Regions from separate parts of the Homo sapiens genome. Here region 2 is linked to region 1. The links come from fine-mapping of genetic effects on gene expression. Tissue or cell type: whole blood. Region 1 holds a variant in brackets; the other region holds the start of a gene. All regions are shown on one strand. Distances are from middle to middle.

Region 1 (8,103 bases):
ATGATGACAGTAATACCTACGTGGCAGGTGTTGTCAGGATTAGAGATAATTAAGTAAAGTATCCAGCACATAGTATGCCTTCTATGCACTGTGCCCATCTGGAGGTAGCACCTGATATATGCAACCTCTCTACTTTACAAAGCATTGATAAATTATTTGTATCAATTTGTATCATTTGATTGTCATGACAACTTAATGAAGGAGCCTGGGTAGGTGTCATTATCCTCATGTTGGTGATGGAAACCATGGTACAGAGTGGCTGAGTGACTTGCCCAAGGCCACACAGCGCATGCCTGGAGCACCCGGGTAAGACAGACCCATAATACCACATGAGAGGCTTGAAGATCTTCCTCTGGGTCTTCTTCCTCCACCCTTGTCAGGCCCCACACCCAGCCACTGGTCCCTGGAATCTAGAGTTGAGTTTGGGGTGCTCAGCAGAGTGGCTCAGCTTCCAATCCTCCTGCAGCCCGGGCCATGCCCACCCTCATGCGCCTCCTCCCCGGCTTGACTAAGAGGTTTTATAGCCGTTTATGAGCAATTTCTGTCCATATATCATCGGAGATATATAGCCAGGCAAATATTAGGGACCCAAGCGGAGGTTTTAAGAGTGAGTTTTATTGCTGCTGAAAGAAGGTGTGATAGGCAGCATGCAGAGACCCACCTTCCCTCTTGCTCGGCGGCCGGGTGGTGGCAGCAGGGACTGGGCTTCAGCTGAGAAAAGCCATCTGTGAAGCTTGCGTGTTATGCCAGCACCCAGGGGTGCGTTGGCGGAGGGTGGTGATGGAAGGGTGGGGCTCTGTTCCTCAGAGAGCCATGCAAGTGGGTGTGGAGGGGTGAAAGGAGGCAAGAAGTCACAGGCTGGTGTGGCCAGCACAGCCTCTCCAAACCTGAGTGGGAAGACACTGAGTTCCAGTGGATTCAACACACAGAAGCGTGGATTGAAGTGAGACAGACTTGGGAAACAACTTCTCCCCAGGGGCCCCTGGGAGAGACTTTGGCAGTGCCTTTTGTTGGAAGTCTTTAAAAACTGGACCGGAACAAGGAGACCCCTGCCCAGAGTTGGTGAGCTGGACAACATGACCCCTACCCTCTTGAGCCACGGCCCCTGTTCTGCTGGAGAAAGCCCTGCAGAGGAGGTCATCCGTGGCCTCCTTTTGGGCTCTGTTCCAGGCCCCCGGCCCACGTGTCCCCTGCCCTCTGTGGGCTTCTGGGTATGGGTGAGTGGCAGAGGGGTAAGGAGAGCCTTCTTGGCTTGCGGCGTATGGAGAGAAGACGTCCCAGGGAATCCTCGCTCCTGATTTAAGCAGCTCCGACAGCTTTATGGTGCCTCCTCGAGTGAGCCCCCAGCGTTGGCTGTTTAACTTTTTAGCGTCGTTTAACGCTTAGACTCTGGTGGACAGGCAGGCCCCAAGGCCCCAGAGGCAGCGGCACTAAATCAGGACACTCTGAGGCCCCGATAAATAATTTTTACAGGGCACGCAGCCCATAGATCACCAGTGGGGGTGGGGGGAGAGTGGCTGTGATATTTCAACCAATTGTCATATGTGACTGCCCCGTGCTCTGACTCCAGGTCGCCCACATGGCAGCCGGCTTCATAACCACAGCCAGCTCTGGGGCTCTTCACTGTGGGGCATGGGAGAGGAGTAGGAGATGGGGCCTTTGATAACCCCAGCCAGCAGATGACCCGTTGCCTCCCCGGGAATGATGTTAAGGTCTGCTCAACTTGCTGTTGTCCATAGAGCATGGGTGCTCAATCCAAGCCTCCTCTGGCACTGGGAGAAGGGACAGCTGAAGGCACGAGGGCAGGGTGGCAGAGAGGAACACAAATAACTTTCTGTAGCCAAAAAGTCACTTTTCTGACCACCTTCCCTGTTCTGTTGACCACCTCCAAACTTGTGGTCTGTGTGAGAGAACAGTACAGAGGGAGGGAGGCATCAGACCTGACCCCAGGAGAGGAGGGCAGAGCTAAGGCTGACGTTCAGAGAAACTGGCAGCATCCCTCTACCATTTATACCTCTAGAGAAAGAGATGGAAAGTGTGGGAGTGTGGAAAGCGGGGGAATGTGGAAGGAGAGAGACAGAAACACAGAGAAGGCTAGGTAGTGAGAGGGACAGAAAAATGAAGATGAAAGACAGATGAAGATGTAGAGAGAACAAGAGACAGAGGCAAGAGGAGACAGACCAAAACGGACTCAGAAAGGACACTCCAACAGTTGGTTTGGTGTGGAGAAGGAGGCCTTTTCCTAAAGCTTGGTACCAAGCAAGAGGAACAGTGGTATCAACAGACCAAGGCAGGGGTTGCATCTGTGCCAGGCTGACCTGCCCCATGCCCTCTGAGGGTGCCCTTCCCCTGGCTTCAGGACCGTGTTTCCCTGCACCAGCTCCACGCTGCTTCCCCACTCTCTCCCCTCCCCTCAGTGCCCTTGCCCCATCCCCTCATCTGTAAGATCTGGGATTTGCGGGGACACTTAATCCATATGGAGCTGATTCATTCCCATCTAAATCATCTCCATGAGCTTCCCTAAGAGCCCTCTGATGTGCCAGCCACCATTCCTCTCCCCTGGGCGATGGCGGGCTGGGGGCTGCCAGTAAACAAACCTCAGCTGCCATCCATCCATCTTGGCCTCGCCCATCAGTCCAGCCAAGACCATTCATCTCTCCAGCACTGCTCCCTGCACTCCTCCATCCCTCCATCCATCTGTCTGTCCCTCCTTCTCATGCCCCTCTACTGGAAACTTTACCTCTCTGCCTTTTCCTGGGTAGCATCTTGAGGGGTCATCTCAACCATCCCCCTGCCTTCAGACAGGAGCCTTATTTTACCCCTGGCCCAGCAAGGCGGGGGCTCTCCCAGTTCATCACCTTCCGAGAATGAGGGCTTCGAGTCTGATGATTTTACTCTACAGTACTGACAACCTAGGGAAGTTCTTTCTTCTGTCTAGCTTGTGTGCTTGACATTCACATATGACCACACGTCTGAATGGGAGTGGGTATAAGATTATAGGATTATACTCAAGCATGAGAGTCTCCAGTATTTGTAATATGTACCTCTCTGGCTTAACATGGTATGTAGAGCTCAAGACCAGTGAAATGGGCCTTTCCTCCAGTCTCCCCCAGCAGAGTCTGGCCCAGTGCCAAGCACGCAGTGGGCGTTCGGTGTTGATTGCTTTCTGGCCATCTTCTTATTTGCCAGTGCCAATGAGTCCAGTGGTCTCACATACATCCTGGGGGGGGTTTTGGTGGGATGACTCTGTGGATCTGATACAGGGCAGATTATGGCACCTCTAGCCTGGCAGGGTTTGCAGTAAACACTAAG[G/A]AAATGTCTCTTACCTCTATTCTCCCACTCAAATTTCTTTTTTTTTTTTTTTTTTTTTGAGACAGAGTCTCGATCTGTCGCCCAGGCTGGAGTGCAGTGGTGCGATCTCGATTCACTGCAACCTCCACCTCCAGGGTTCACTCCATTCTCCTGCCTCAGCCTCCCGAGTAGCTGGGACTACAGGCGCTCACCACAACGCCCGGCTTATTTTTTGTATTTTTGGTAAAGATGGGGTTTCACCATGTTAGCCAGGATGGTCTCGATCTCCTGACCTCGTGATCCACCCTCCTCGGCCTCCCAAAGTGCTGGGATTACAGGCGTGAGCCACCACGCCCGGCCTATCCCACCCAAATTTCTTAACGCAGGCCTGGGGTAGAGCTTGCCTCAACAACTCGCTCTCGGTAATTGTGGGGCTGAAGAGAGGGAGGACGAACAGGAGGGGCAGCAGGTGCTGGTGGGGCCTTCCATGGCACTGAAGCAGAACCCTCGCATTTGGGGGAAACCCTTATGTTTACCTGCACTAATCAGGAGAGTGCATGGAGGGCGCCGCTGTCCCCTGCCCCAGCCTTAGCATTATGGCCCTTCCCTTTTCAGCCTCTTCACCTCATCCTGGGAGGGGTGACTCTGAGAAAGGGGCTTCTGCAAGTCCCTAAGGAGAGAAGACGGGAGCAGGTCTTTGGGTCCCACCTCAGCGTCTCCATGCGCAGCACCACTGGAAGTTGGGGAACAGGGAACAGGTCTGTCTGTCTGTCTCTGGTCAGTAGAGAATTTTGGTCAGGCTCTAGTAACCCTGCAGAGGGATAAAGTGGGTATGGGGGGTGGAGGTGGAGTTACAGGGAGAGATGAGGGCAGTACTTGTGACAGGTGTGTCCTTCCCTGGATCCAGTCATGAAGAGTGGGAGGGAGAGAGGAGAGGGAGGGGAAACATGAACTTTCACGTGCCCTGAGAGAGCTGGTGTTTCACCACTGCCAGCCGCTCCCCGAGACCTGGGATGCCTTGTTGAGCATCTGCCCTGCTCCCAGACCAGACTAGACCAGGCAGGGAATCCCGATGCATGCTTCTCCCCTGTCCCCACACTAACTCCCACTCCCTTTCCCCTTGTTGCTGGTCCCCTGCATGGAGTCACTGTGAGTACACAGGATAGGTGAGGCTCTACAGCTGTTATTGAGTTGTGAGGATCCTTGACCTTGTCCCTCTCACTCCCCTACAGGGAGAGGAGGCTCTAATTGTAGTCAGAAAGATAAGAAGGGTGTCTTGGAGAGGAGAGGGGCTGGGGGGGCCGTGGGGAAGCTAACCACTTGCCCCAGTCGTGTGAAGGTAAGTGTGGGAGGGGAGGGGCCTGCAGGTAGCAAGGCCCAACTTAAGAATGATGAGGTGCTTCTTAGTTCTCTGAGCTATAGACATGTGAAGTATGTAAGACCATGCGAAAGGATAAATTATCACCTAAGGAGGAGAGGACATGGGGGAATAAGAAAAAATTCAAGCCAGGGAGACCCAATGCTACCACCCCCATCACCATCATGACCTGATCCATCTGTGCTGGACTGGATTAAAGTCCATAGGGAGGGGGAGGCCTGAGAACTGGCCCTGAGGTCTTCAGAGGAAAAGCTGATCCCCCACCGTGCATTTGCTTGATGTTACACAGAGCAAGGGGGAGCTGGGAACAGCTGCTCAAATTCTTCAGGTGGGGCAGCCACGGGGAGCTCCCCATCCTCCTTCTTCCTTCCTTGCACCCACCTCTCTCCAACCCCTCCTTCTACCTAGTCCGCTGAGGAACAGTGCCCTCTTCTCCCATTGGCCCGCCTCTCGTGGTTGTCCCCAGCCTCTTGGGCTAGGCCCTCCTCACCCACTCAGTGGCTCCTAACCTCTCTTGTCTCCTCTGAAACTCCTCTTCCTGCAAGAAGCATCCCAGGCTGCTTCTCCCCTCCCCCCAAAAAAAGCCCACTTACCCAGACTTGCAGCTGATGAAAATCCTTTAGGATCCACTCGTGGGCTGCTGCCTTGGGTCCTGCAGGGTCTGGAGATTCCTTTGTTTGTCTGTCCTCTATTGCTCAACATCCACATGTCCAATTTAGGCTGGGATTCCCACAATACAAGTGAGGAGCCAAGTCTTTTTTTTTTTTTTTTGAGATGGAGTCTCGCTCTGTTGCCCAGGCTGGAGTGCAGTTGTGTGATCTCTGCTCACCGCAAGCTCTGCCTCCCCGGGTTCACGCCATTCTCCTGCCACAGCCTCCCGAGTAGCTGGGACTACAGGCGTCTGCCAGGATGCCCAGTTAATTTTTTGTATTTTTATTAGAGATGGGGTTTCATCGTGTTAGCCAGGATGGTCTCGATCTTCTGCTCTCGTGATTCCCGCAAAGTGCTGGGATTACAAGCGTGAGCCACTGTGCCTGGCCGAGCCTGGGGTTTTAAAATCTATTTGACAGCCCTTCTTCTGACATCATGAGGCAGAAATGTCTTGAGGAATGCTGGGAGGTCTTAGACGACCAATGAGCGGGACTGGTACACTTTCCCCCAGGGAAGCCACCTCATGCTACAGCAAGTAGTGACAGAGGCTAGACAATGGGAAGAACTGTAATCTCTTAAAATTGAAGGAAAGATTTCCAGGGTTTCACTGAAGACCTTGAGGAGGAATGACTTTAATCTTTTCAAGCTCTGAGGGAGCAGAGAGGCCTGGGAGTCTGGAAAAGTTTCTGTCCACTCTTGCAGAACTGACTCAAAGAGGGACGGCCACTTTCTTTTTCAAGAGCCCTGACTCATCCACGTTCAGTCCAATTCCACTCACAATTTCTTAGATAATTGTTTCTTTCTTAGACAGAAATTTGGTTCTGGAATTCCCTGTCCTATTCCTCCCATGACCTGGGAACCATCTTTAGGAACCAACTTCAGCTTATGGTGCCAGAAAAACAGAGATGTAGAGACATTTTTGGACAGTCACACAGCAAACCATCAAGGAGCTGGGAATGCCCCCTTATGGATCCTCTTCTCTTCTCTGGATGTGAAGGGAAAGGATATGATCCTAGGGGGAAGGGTGGGGTTAGTGAGAGCTGGAAGAGCACCCCCGCCCAGCAGGCCCAGATCCAAATGTGCACATGATGGAAATGCCTTTATAGCCAAGGGCCCCTCCCTCCCAAAAATAAAATCCCACAATTGGGGAACATCTGGATCAAACCACAGCCATGAAAGCGCAACATCAAACGAGGGTTTCTGAGCGACCCTCCCCGCAGGCCCTGGTCCAAGAGAAATTGCAGAACTTCCTGCTTGAAGCTTTTAAGTGTCACAGAACCCCTCAAATTTGGGATTGCCCCCTATTTGCTGGAGACAGATGTCCCCGAGTGTGGTTGGGCCTGATTGCCCCCAGCGGGATAGAGTGTGTGTGACCTGATCTTACCCCCAGCTAATCCAGGCAGGAAAGCTGTGATGAGGGGCTCCAGCCTTTCAGGCTGGGGGCTGGGGAGAGAGGGGACAGGTGGGCCTTCTGAAACGTGCCTACATCAAAGGTTTGAGTACCCTCCCTTCCAAGCTTTGGCGCCTCCGGCGGGGAGGAAAGCAGTGATTTCACCACATAACTGCACGTAGGGCGGATCTCAGTCTGAGAACTTCTGGGGAATGTGGAGAGGGGAGGGACGGTGCTTCCCAGAGGGGAGGAAAGGGCAAGGAGGGTTCTCGCTTCCAAAATAGCCTACCCAGGCCAAGGAAAACGGGGCCATATGCAGCCTCCCTCCTGCTCTGGCCTCTGTGGAGGGAAAGCTGAGGGGAGGGTGCATTCTTCCAAGGGGGGAGGAGGAGCAGCTATAGCAGGAGGAGGGCAGGAGCCAGATCACAGATGGAGAGCGGTGGGGAACAGGGGCATCTTCCACACACAGGGGCATGAAAGAGGAAGGCTGTAGGGTATGTGAATTCCAGGAGACAGTAGGCGCTCCCCTCCCTGTTCCCCAGGCTCTGTCCTGTCTCAGGAATCATAGAGTGTCTGGTCATGATGCTGGCAGGGTGGGATCGACTGTGGGGCACATGGGTTAGGGAGGCACCCCATATCTGGCTGGAATCCCAGTTCAGATTTGGATCATTTGAGGATGAGTGAGAGTCGGTTGGGGTGTTGACACCCCACTGTAACCTTAGTTTAAGAAGCTAAGGATTTATTGTTGGGGTGGAAGGTCACCTTCAGTTGGGAGGAGTGTAGGGAGAAAAAAGGGGCACCATTTGCATATAATTTTGCTTATAGTTTCCATACTCCTCCCCTTCAGGGAGACTTCCATGACCCTTTCCTTTCCCTTCCCAGGGAGGTTTAGGTGTGTGCATGGTGCTCCCCCGGTGCCCTAGGTGTACCTATAGTCTTGGTTCTTTTCACCTTGCTTTGTAAAGATCCGTGGTTTCTTTCCCCATCCAGACTGTCGGTGCCTTGATGACATGGACCTCCTTGTTCTTCTCTGTGTTCCTAGTTCCCAGCACAGTGCCTGGCAGCGAGCAGGTGCTCGGTGATGCTACCCTGCTGCTGCTGGAGCCCATTCCTCCCATGACCAATGTTCTGGGGGAAACAAAGGACAACCCGTAGGATGGTTCTTTAGCAGCCTGGAGGCCTCTGATGGGCTCTCAGCCTTTCTAAAACTGCAAGGATAGCTCCTATCTGACCGCCTCTGGGAGTCTCCTGGGAGGACCCTCAGTGACAGCACTTTCTTCTGCCCCTGAAACTTATTGCCCATAAGGCTCACCTTCATGGTCAGATATTTATTTATTAGAGACAGGGTCTTGCTTGCTCTGTCGCCCAGGCTGGAGTGCAGTGGTACAATCAC
Region 2 (8,103 bases), 44 kb before region 1:
AACTGAGATAACTGAGGCACAGAGAAATTAAGTAGCATGCCCAAGGTCACCATGAGTAAGTGGCAGAGCTTGGATTCAAACGCAGCAGTCTGATTCCAGAGCCCAAAGTCCTGAGGCCTCTGCTATGCTGTCTTCACTGTCCTATGCTCTTTTGATGTTTGTTGGGCTAATCGGGACAGGACCCAGTGTAGTGGAAGTGGGGAAGGTGGCTACACTGAAAGTTAAACACCAGAACCCCCTTTGGGGCTCCCCATGTCAGAAACAGTGAGTGGGAGCTGAACAGGGTGAAACTTAGTATCTATGAAGGGGGAAACATGGCCTTCACCTTCTCCAATTCCCGACCTTTGTTTTGTGCAGTGGGAGGCCCCGCAGCTAGACAGCCCTTCCCCGTGAGAAGCGGCGAGGCAAGGGAAAGGCTGAAAGATCCGCCTAGCAGCCCAAGTGAGCAGAGTCGGAGCTAGGACCCAAAGAGGCCGATAGATGGCGCTCATGGCCCAACACAGCTCCAGCAGCCCGAGGAAACAAAAAAAAAAAAAAAAAAACAAGTGAGCCGGTTAACCCCTTCCCTCCCGGGCTCAGGACAGAGGGGCTGGCTGGTGGGTATGCCTGGAGCCCTGCCCCAGGACCGGTGACTCAACTCTCTAGGCTCTTACCCAGGCGATAACCTGGGTCATCTTCTGTTCCTGCCCCACAAGGCTCTACCCGTAAATCACAGTCAGCAGCCTCCTGAAGACTTCCCAGAAGACATGAAGACTAATAAATGGAAGAGACTGGTTGGAAGGGCTGCACCCAAGCCCATGTTTCATCTCTTGGGCTCTATCTCTTGAAAGCCTCAGGGTCCCTGTTTCTAAGCACGCCTACTTCAGGAGAGCGCCTCACCTCCATCTTTCCTGGGAGTGACTCACTGGGCGGGGAGGAATAGCATGGACTAGAGAGAGAGAAGGCCCCAGGCCCCTCTGACATTGGCTGTAGGGACTCACTGTGGGCTGCCTAAGCCTCAGTTTCTCCTTATATCTGGACTTCCTATCTCTGGGTTCCCTGGGGTGGATGGGCTTATAGGGACAGAAACAGTTATTCAAGTCTTCTAGGAAATTGAAATCAGGGGTGGGGAGGTGGAGGTCCTGGGGGATCTCTGCTTGCCTGTTACTCATTTCACTCATTATTGTTCTGCCAGAAGCAGACTTTGAATGTGGAGGGGCTGCCAAGATGACAAACTAGAACAGAAGTGCTGGGCAAGCAAGTGACAGAGGGGTCGGGGTGGACAGGAGGGTTGTCCAAGGGATGGTGGAAATCCTGGAATTTTTAAGCAATGAGATGACACCACAATGAGGTCCCTTCACCTTATTTTTGGTCAGAAACACAGAAATACATAGACACACAGAGATGGGGGAACTTGTTCTAGAAGCTCAGATTCTCTTATTCCAGTCATTCTAGGGTAAGAAGCAGAAACAGGGAGATGTTCACAGAGGGAGACAGAGACCTGCAGATACAGAGAGAAAGCTACACAAGAGACTAGAAATAGAGATAAATTTACATAAGTAGAGAGGGGCAAATAACATAGGCAGAGAGAGACACAGAGAGGGAGAGGATCTGGTAAAAATTAAAGCTCAGGAAATTATGGGCTTCATGAGGTGGATGATTAATTCCATTTCCAAAGTCTTGCAAGGGTCAGGGTAGTTTCTCACCCTTGATGTCAGCAGGTCACTGCTCACAGCTCCCTGAAGCTCCTACTGCACCCATTAAGTTTTTGTTGATAGGAGATCAGACAAGTCCTGGGAAGGGAATAGCATCCTTTTTCTCTCACTTCTTCCTGTTCTGGGGTTTATAGGTCTCCTTTTCTACCACTCACAGGGAGACCTTGCTTCTGTGATTAGAGCCTTGGCTGTGCTAAGGTGTGTGGAGATTGTGGGGTGGGAGGAATATAGAAGATAACTAACCTTAGGGGGTTCCCAGTCTAATGAAAGTTTTAGAGTCACGACACAGAACCAGACCCAGATAGAGCACAAGAACAAAACTAGGAATAGGACAGATTTGGACATAGATATTGGGATGGGGGAATGGTGGGGGAATGGACTGTTAGGTGCAGCCATGGGATGAGGATTGATCAGGGAAGCCTTCCTGGACAAAGTATTTGAGGGAGAAGATTTGGATGGAAGAGTGATAGCTAACTTTATGTGTCTACTTGAGTGGTCTAAGGGACACCCAGATAGCTGGTAAAACATTATTTCTGGATATGTCTGTGGAGTGTTTCTGGAAGAGATTTGCATTTGAATTGGTAGACTAAGAAGATCACCCTCATTAATATGGGTGGGAACCATCCAATCCCTTGGGGGCCAGTAGAACAAAAGAGTGGAGGAAGGCAAATTCTCTTTCTTCATGAGCTGGGACATCTATTTTACCTGCCTTTGGACATCATTGGAGTTCCTGGTTCTTCGTCCTTCAGGCTCTGGGACTTAGCAGTGAGCCTCCTCCCCTGCTTTGGACTTTCCTGAATTATACCACCTGTTTTCCTGGTTCTCCAGTGTATAGACAGCAGAGCGGGAGACTGTGGGACTTCTTGGCCTCCACAATCCTGTGAGCCAATTCTTGGAATAAATCTCGTCATATAGATAGATATCCTGTTAGTTCTGTTCTCTGGAAAACTCTTGACTAATACTGAGGTTATAGGGTTGGGCAGATAGCAAGGCAGAGAAAGAAGTCAAAATGGTGACACTCTGGAGATGGGCTTGGACAGTAATGGGGGATGCCCCTTGCTAAAAAGTTGTTAGGAGCTACCAGAAATGTCTTCGTGGATGTTCTGTATAAGTAATGGCAGGCTGCAAAGGAGAAGTCTCTTATACCCACGGTGGCAGGGGGCCTAGCAATGGTCTTTAGCTATTGTTAATACCTTCAGGTGGGTGAGGGATTGGGGATGGTTGAAGCTTCCTGATTTGCAATCCCTTTGGGAAAATAGTGAATGAACTTTTGGAAGGGCGATGCCCTTTAGGGATAGAACCCAGGATTTCCTAGGTACTTACAGGCTGTGGCTTTTCACTTCTCAAGACTTCCTGATTTAACGCTGATGGAAAGATTAAACTACAATTCCCAGCGATCTTTAGGGCTAATTTAGTGCGCCTTCCGGGATTGGAGCATTTCCGGCGGAAGTGGCTGCGGGTACGCCAATCTCCTTCCCTAAACAATGTAGACTACGACTCCCACTGTCCTTAGCGCCGGGGGTTGGGTTTGGGGTGGGGGAAAGGAACCGGAAACGGGATGGGGAGCTGGACCAGGTGAGGAAGTAGGGGGCTGGGAATCCGGGACTGTGGGGGCAAGTTGACGGCTCCCAGGGTCGTCGGGGCTGAGCCGAGAGGGTGGTTAGAATTTCTATATTTTGGGGTCCCTCCCTCCGTATGGGGTAAGACTCAGTGCAGGGAGAGCCCAGCCTATGAAACCGCCTGGGAGGTCTGCAGGATCAAGGCTTTCCAGTCGGCCGGAGCCAGCGGGCGCCCCCGGAGGTTTTGTATGGTGCCTTAGTAGTCGGCCCCTTTGGAACCAGATGAAATGGTCTTTTTGAGTTTATGCTTTATTATTATTATTGTTTATTTATTTATTTTTCTGAGACGGAATTTTGCTCTGAATTCCAGGCTGGAGTGCAATGGCGCGATCTCAGCTCACTGCAGCCTCCGCCTCCCGGGTTCAAGCGATTCTTCTGCCTCAGCCTCCCGAGTAGGTGGGATTACAGGCGCGCGCCACCATGCCCAGCTAATTTTTGTATTTAGTAGAGACTGGGTTTCACCATGTTGGTCAGGCTGGTCTCGAAGTCCTGACCTCGTGATCCGCCCGCCTCGGCCTCCCAAAGTGCTCGGATTACGGGTGTGAGCCACCGCGCCCGGCCTATGCATTATTATTATTATTATTATTATTATTATTATTATTATTATTATTTATTATTATTATTATTATTATTATTATTTCGTTTAAGGATATTTATTATTGTCCCTGGACTCCCGGAGTGCCTCCAAAGGACAGGGGAGTGCATATGTGATTTCGATTCCTTCCTCACTTCCCGGATTTGATGTCAGAGAAGTCTGACATCAGTCTGAAGTCGGCCCTTGGTGGTCAGCCTTATCGCTTGGTCCAACTCCGCTGTCTTTGTGCTTAATGTAGTATGACACCGTATTTTATAAAATATCTACATTTCTTAAGCCTCTGGCTCTTGGGGCGACTTTGGGTAGAACTTACAAGTTCCTCCTTTGGGTTCTCTTAGTGTTTTGTTCCGGGTATTAAAGCTCACATCACACTGTATTACAGTTAGTTGTTTATTTGCCCTCACAGCAGATTATGAGCTTACAGAAAGCCTGGCCTACATTTTACTCTTTTTGGATTTCTTCCTCATCAAGAGACTGCTGCAGTGCCTGTCATGTAAGAGACTCATAAGTATTGAAAAAAAAAATGAGTTAACAGGTGGTAGGTTGGATGGAGTATGTGATTTTCCATAGAGAAGAGAGTTAAATGAGTTGCTCAAGAGAACCTTCTTAGAGATGAAACAGGAGTAGAATTCAAATCAATTGACTTCCAGCCTGTGGCTCTTGCTATGAGATCAGGCTTTGAAGTTATGGAACAATGAAAGTAGTATCTTGCCACTCTTTTCCCCAGCCTTGCTGTTTCCAACACAGGTGTCTAAATGTCAAAGGTGGGCTCAAGACTTCTCGAGATTCTAGAGCTGGAGCAGCCAATCTGCTAATGTTGGTGTTGCATGGGGAGATGCAAAGCAAGGTCCCCTGAAACACTGGCGTTCTCCACAGCACCCTTCTCAGCTTTTGTATGAGCCCAGTTTGTCCTGGGTAGCCACCTGGACAACAGATCAGTTAAAGACTACTGAGACAGTCAGGGAAGGACTTCCTAAGTTGGGCCTCTGATTTCTTTTCTCTCCCACTTCCCCTAGGCTAGGGTGAGAAAATAGGTTTATCGAGCTGTTGTGTCAACCTTGAGTTCTTATCTTGGAGAAGTCACTCCTGACCCAGGCAGAAAGTTGAGAGGAAGGAATGACAATGGTCCTTGTCGCATGGGAGGCACACATATGATGGGCACAGACCCAGAGTCTGGAAAACAAGCAGAGTGCAAAGTGGGCAGCTAAGCCTTGAGTGAACTCAGGATATAGAAGTGGAGAAGGATCCATCAGGAGTGCCTCCTTGGTAAAAGCTGTTTATTTTATTTTTATATTTACAGATGGGGTCTCATTATGTCAGCCAGGCTGGTCTTGAACTCCTGGCCTCAAGCAATTCTTCTGCCTTGGCCTCTCAAAGTGCTGGGATTACAGGCATGAGCCACTGTGCCCAGCACAGAAGGTAGTTTTAAACAAAAGTGAAAAAGAAGATGGACATTGCTGAGCAGGTGTTTGTTGAGTACCTAATAAGGGCCAGGACCTTGGGCTTATGGAGGGAGATTGAACAAGGCCTGGCTCTTGATCTGCCCAAGTTTAGCTGGGGAGGCAAAAGGAATTCATTAAGACGACGGTAACCATGGTGACACACAGTGGTTCTCAGCCTTCACCAACCATCAGAATCACCCTGGGAAGCTTGTTTAAAATACAGATTCCCAGGCTGGGCACGGTAGCTCACGTTTGTAATCCCAGCACTTTGGGAGGCTGAGGCAGGCAGATCATGAGGTCAGGAGTTCGAGACCAGCCTGACCAACATGGTGAAACCCTGTCTCTACTGAAAATACGAAAATTAGCCGGGTGTGGTGCTGCGCACCTGTAATCCCAGTACCCAGGAGGCTAAGGTGGGAGAATCACTTGAACCCGGGAGGCAGAGGTTGCAGTGAGCTGAGATCGCGCCACTGCACTCCAGTCTGGGCGACAGAGCAAGATTCTGTCTCAAAAAAAAAACAAAACAAAACAAAACAAAAAACACAGATTCCCAGGCCTCACACGGGACCTACTTGTGTTGGGGGTGGGGTTGGGACACTATGGCAAATACTGCAGTGTTCTGAGGAGGGAAGACTTTATCAAAGGGATGGTTTGAGCTGCATTTTGAAGGATGGGAGTGATTTGGATATGTGGACAGGTTGGGGAATCAACAGTCCTAGTTGACTGGATGACTGCTGGATGATGTCCTGGTTGACTTCAGGAGTGTATTTGGTTGGACTGTAGAAATGGTATGTGCAAGGTTTTGGGAGTTGAGGCAGGAAAGGCATTTTGAAAATGTGAGTAGAATGGTCAGGTTGGAACACTGGGTTTGAATGGGAGTGGAGTGAAGCAATGGCCTTTGCAGTTTACAAAGCTTGCTGTCATGTTCCTGCCCCCTCCCTTCTCCTTCCTCCCACCTCCCTTCTCTCTTCCCTTTCTTCTTCCTCTCCCATTTCTTTTCTCCCTTCACCTAAACATAACATCTCATTCCATCCTTACGTCTGTTTGTTTGTTTTGAGACAGTCTCCCTCTGTAGCCCAGGCTGGAGTGCAGTGGCACAATCTCGGCTCACTGCAACCTCTGCCTCCCAGGTCCTGGTTCAAGCAATTCTCCTGCCTCAGCCTCCCATGTAGCTGGAATTACAGGCACGTGCCACCATGCCCAGCTAATTTTTGTATTTTTAGTTGAGACGGGGTTTCACCATGTTGGCCAGGTTGATCTTGAACTCCTGACCTCGTGATCCACCTGCCTCAGCCTCCCAAAGTACTGGGATTACAGGCATGAGCTGTTGCGCCCGGCAAATTTATTTATTTATTTATTTATTTATTTATTTATTTATTTATTTTTTATTTTATTTTTTTTTGAGATGGAGTCTTGCTCTTTTGCCCAGGCTTGAGTGCAGTGGCACGATCTTGGCTCACTGCAACCTCAGCCTCCCGGGTTCAGGCAGTTCTCCCTGCCTCAGCCTCCCGAGTAGCTGGGATTACAGGTGCCCACCACAACGCCCAGCTAATTTTTTTTTTTTGAGAGAGAGTTTCACTGTTGTTGCCCGTGCTGGAGTGCAATGGCACGATCTTGGCTCACCGCAACCTCCACCTTTCAGGTTCAAATGATTCTGCCTCAGCCTCCAGAGTAGCCGGGATTACAGGCACGTACCACCATGCCTGACTAATTTGTATTTTTAGTAGAGGTGGGAGTTTCTCCATTTTGGTCAGGCTGGTCTCGAACTCCCGACCTCAGGTGATCTGCCCACCTCAGCCTCCTAAAGTGCTGGGATTACAGGCTTGAGCCACCACGCCCAGCATGCCCAGCTAATTTTTGTAATTTTTAGTAGAGACGGGGTTTCGCCATGTTGGCCAGGCCAGTTTTGAACGCCTGACCTAAGGTGATTCAGCCGCCTTGGCCTCCCAAAGTGCTGGGATTACAGGCATGAGCCACCATGCCTGGCCTTCCTTATGTCAACATTATTAAGTGGATATTATTATTCTTTGTATTTGAAGGTGGAAACCTGAGGCTCTGGCCATGGTTGTGTAGCTCGTAAGATTCTATGAGGAGTCTGTAATCATCCTACTCGGTATTCCTGAGTGTGGGAAAGAAGCTAGGCTGGGGTTAGGGGGTTGTAGAATTAGCAGGGTGGCTGATCAAACCATCTAAGGCAAGATGGCGTGGGTGGTTAAAGCATAGCCTTGAGCCAGAGAGATTGGGCTCAACCAAATCCAGCTTTATTACTTACTAACTGTAAGACCTTGGGCAAGTTGCTTAATCTTGCTAAGCCTCAGTGTCCTCACTTATAACAGGGGAGCAGTAATACCCACCTCATGGGATTGTTGTGAGGATCAATGAGGTGTACCTGGTGCAGAGCAGTCGCTCACCACCTGGAAGCTATTGTAATTAGCCTTCCCAGGTCTCTGGGCTGTGGCTGTGCACTTGCATTTCATTCTTCAGCGCCGTGCTTTCCAGAACAGTCCATTCTGGCTGGGCTTTTCTTTTTTAGGATGACCTTAAAGGTGCTGAAAGGATGCCACCAGTAAATGTTTATTGAAAACCTACTATGTGCTCGGCATAGCCCAGGAACTAGTGACCTATGCCTGATGGAAAGGAGATTTGGAGTGGGAGATGTTTGGTGGCTATGGCTTATCCTCACCAGGTGCCATGTGAAGAGGACAGATAATGGAAGTGGGGAGGGAAAGGGCCCTTCATTACCAAGAACTGAG

What was found. PIP is the estimated chance that this variant, and not a neighbour inherited with it, causes the effect.
Region 2: SMUG1 starts here. The variant in region 1 is fine-mapped to the expression of SMUG1 in whole blood (INTERVAL, PIP 0.98).

The regions. Positions count from the first base shown.
Region 1 is chr12:54,139,981-54,148,083 of GRCh38, reverse strand. It overlaps SMUG1-AS1 (SMUG1 antisense RNA 1), which reads right to left and starts at 5,482. Exons shown (of 2, transcript XR_007063322.1): 1 at 5,263-5,482. The variant G/A (reference allele first, on the strand shown) is at 3,313.
Region 2 is chr12:54,184,117-54,192,219 of GRCh38, reverse strand. SMUG1 (single-strand-selective monofunctional uracil-DNA glycosylase 1) reads left to right here and starts at 3,235. Exons shown (of 4, transcript NM_001243787.2): 1 at 3,235-3,269; 2 at 4,318-4,401. LOC105369777 (a long non-coding RNA gene) reads right to left here and starts at 3,123. Exons shown (of 3, transcript XR_944984.2): 1 at 3,018-3,123; 2 at 1,686-1,772.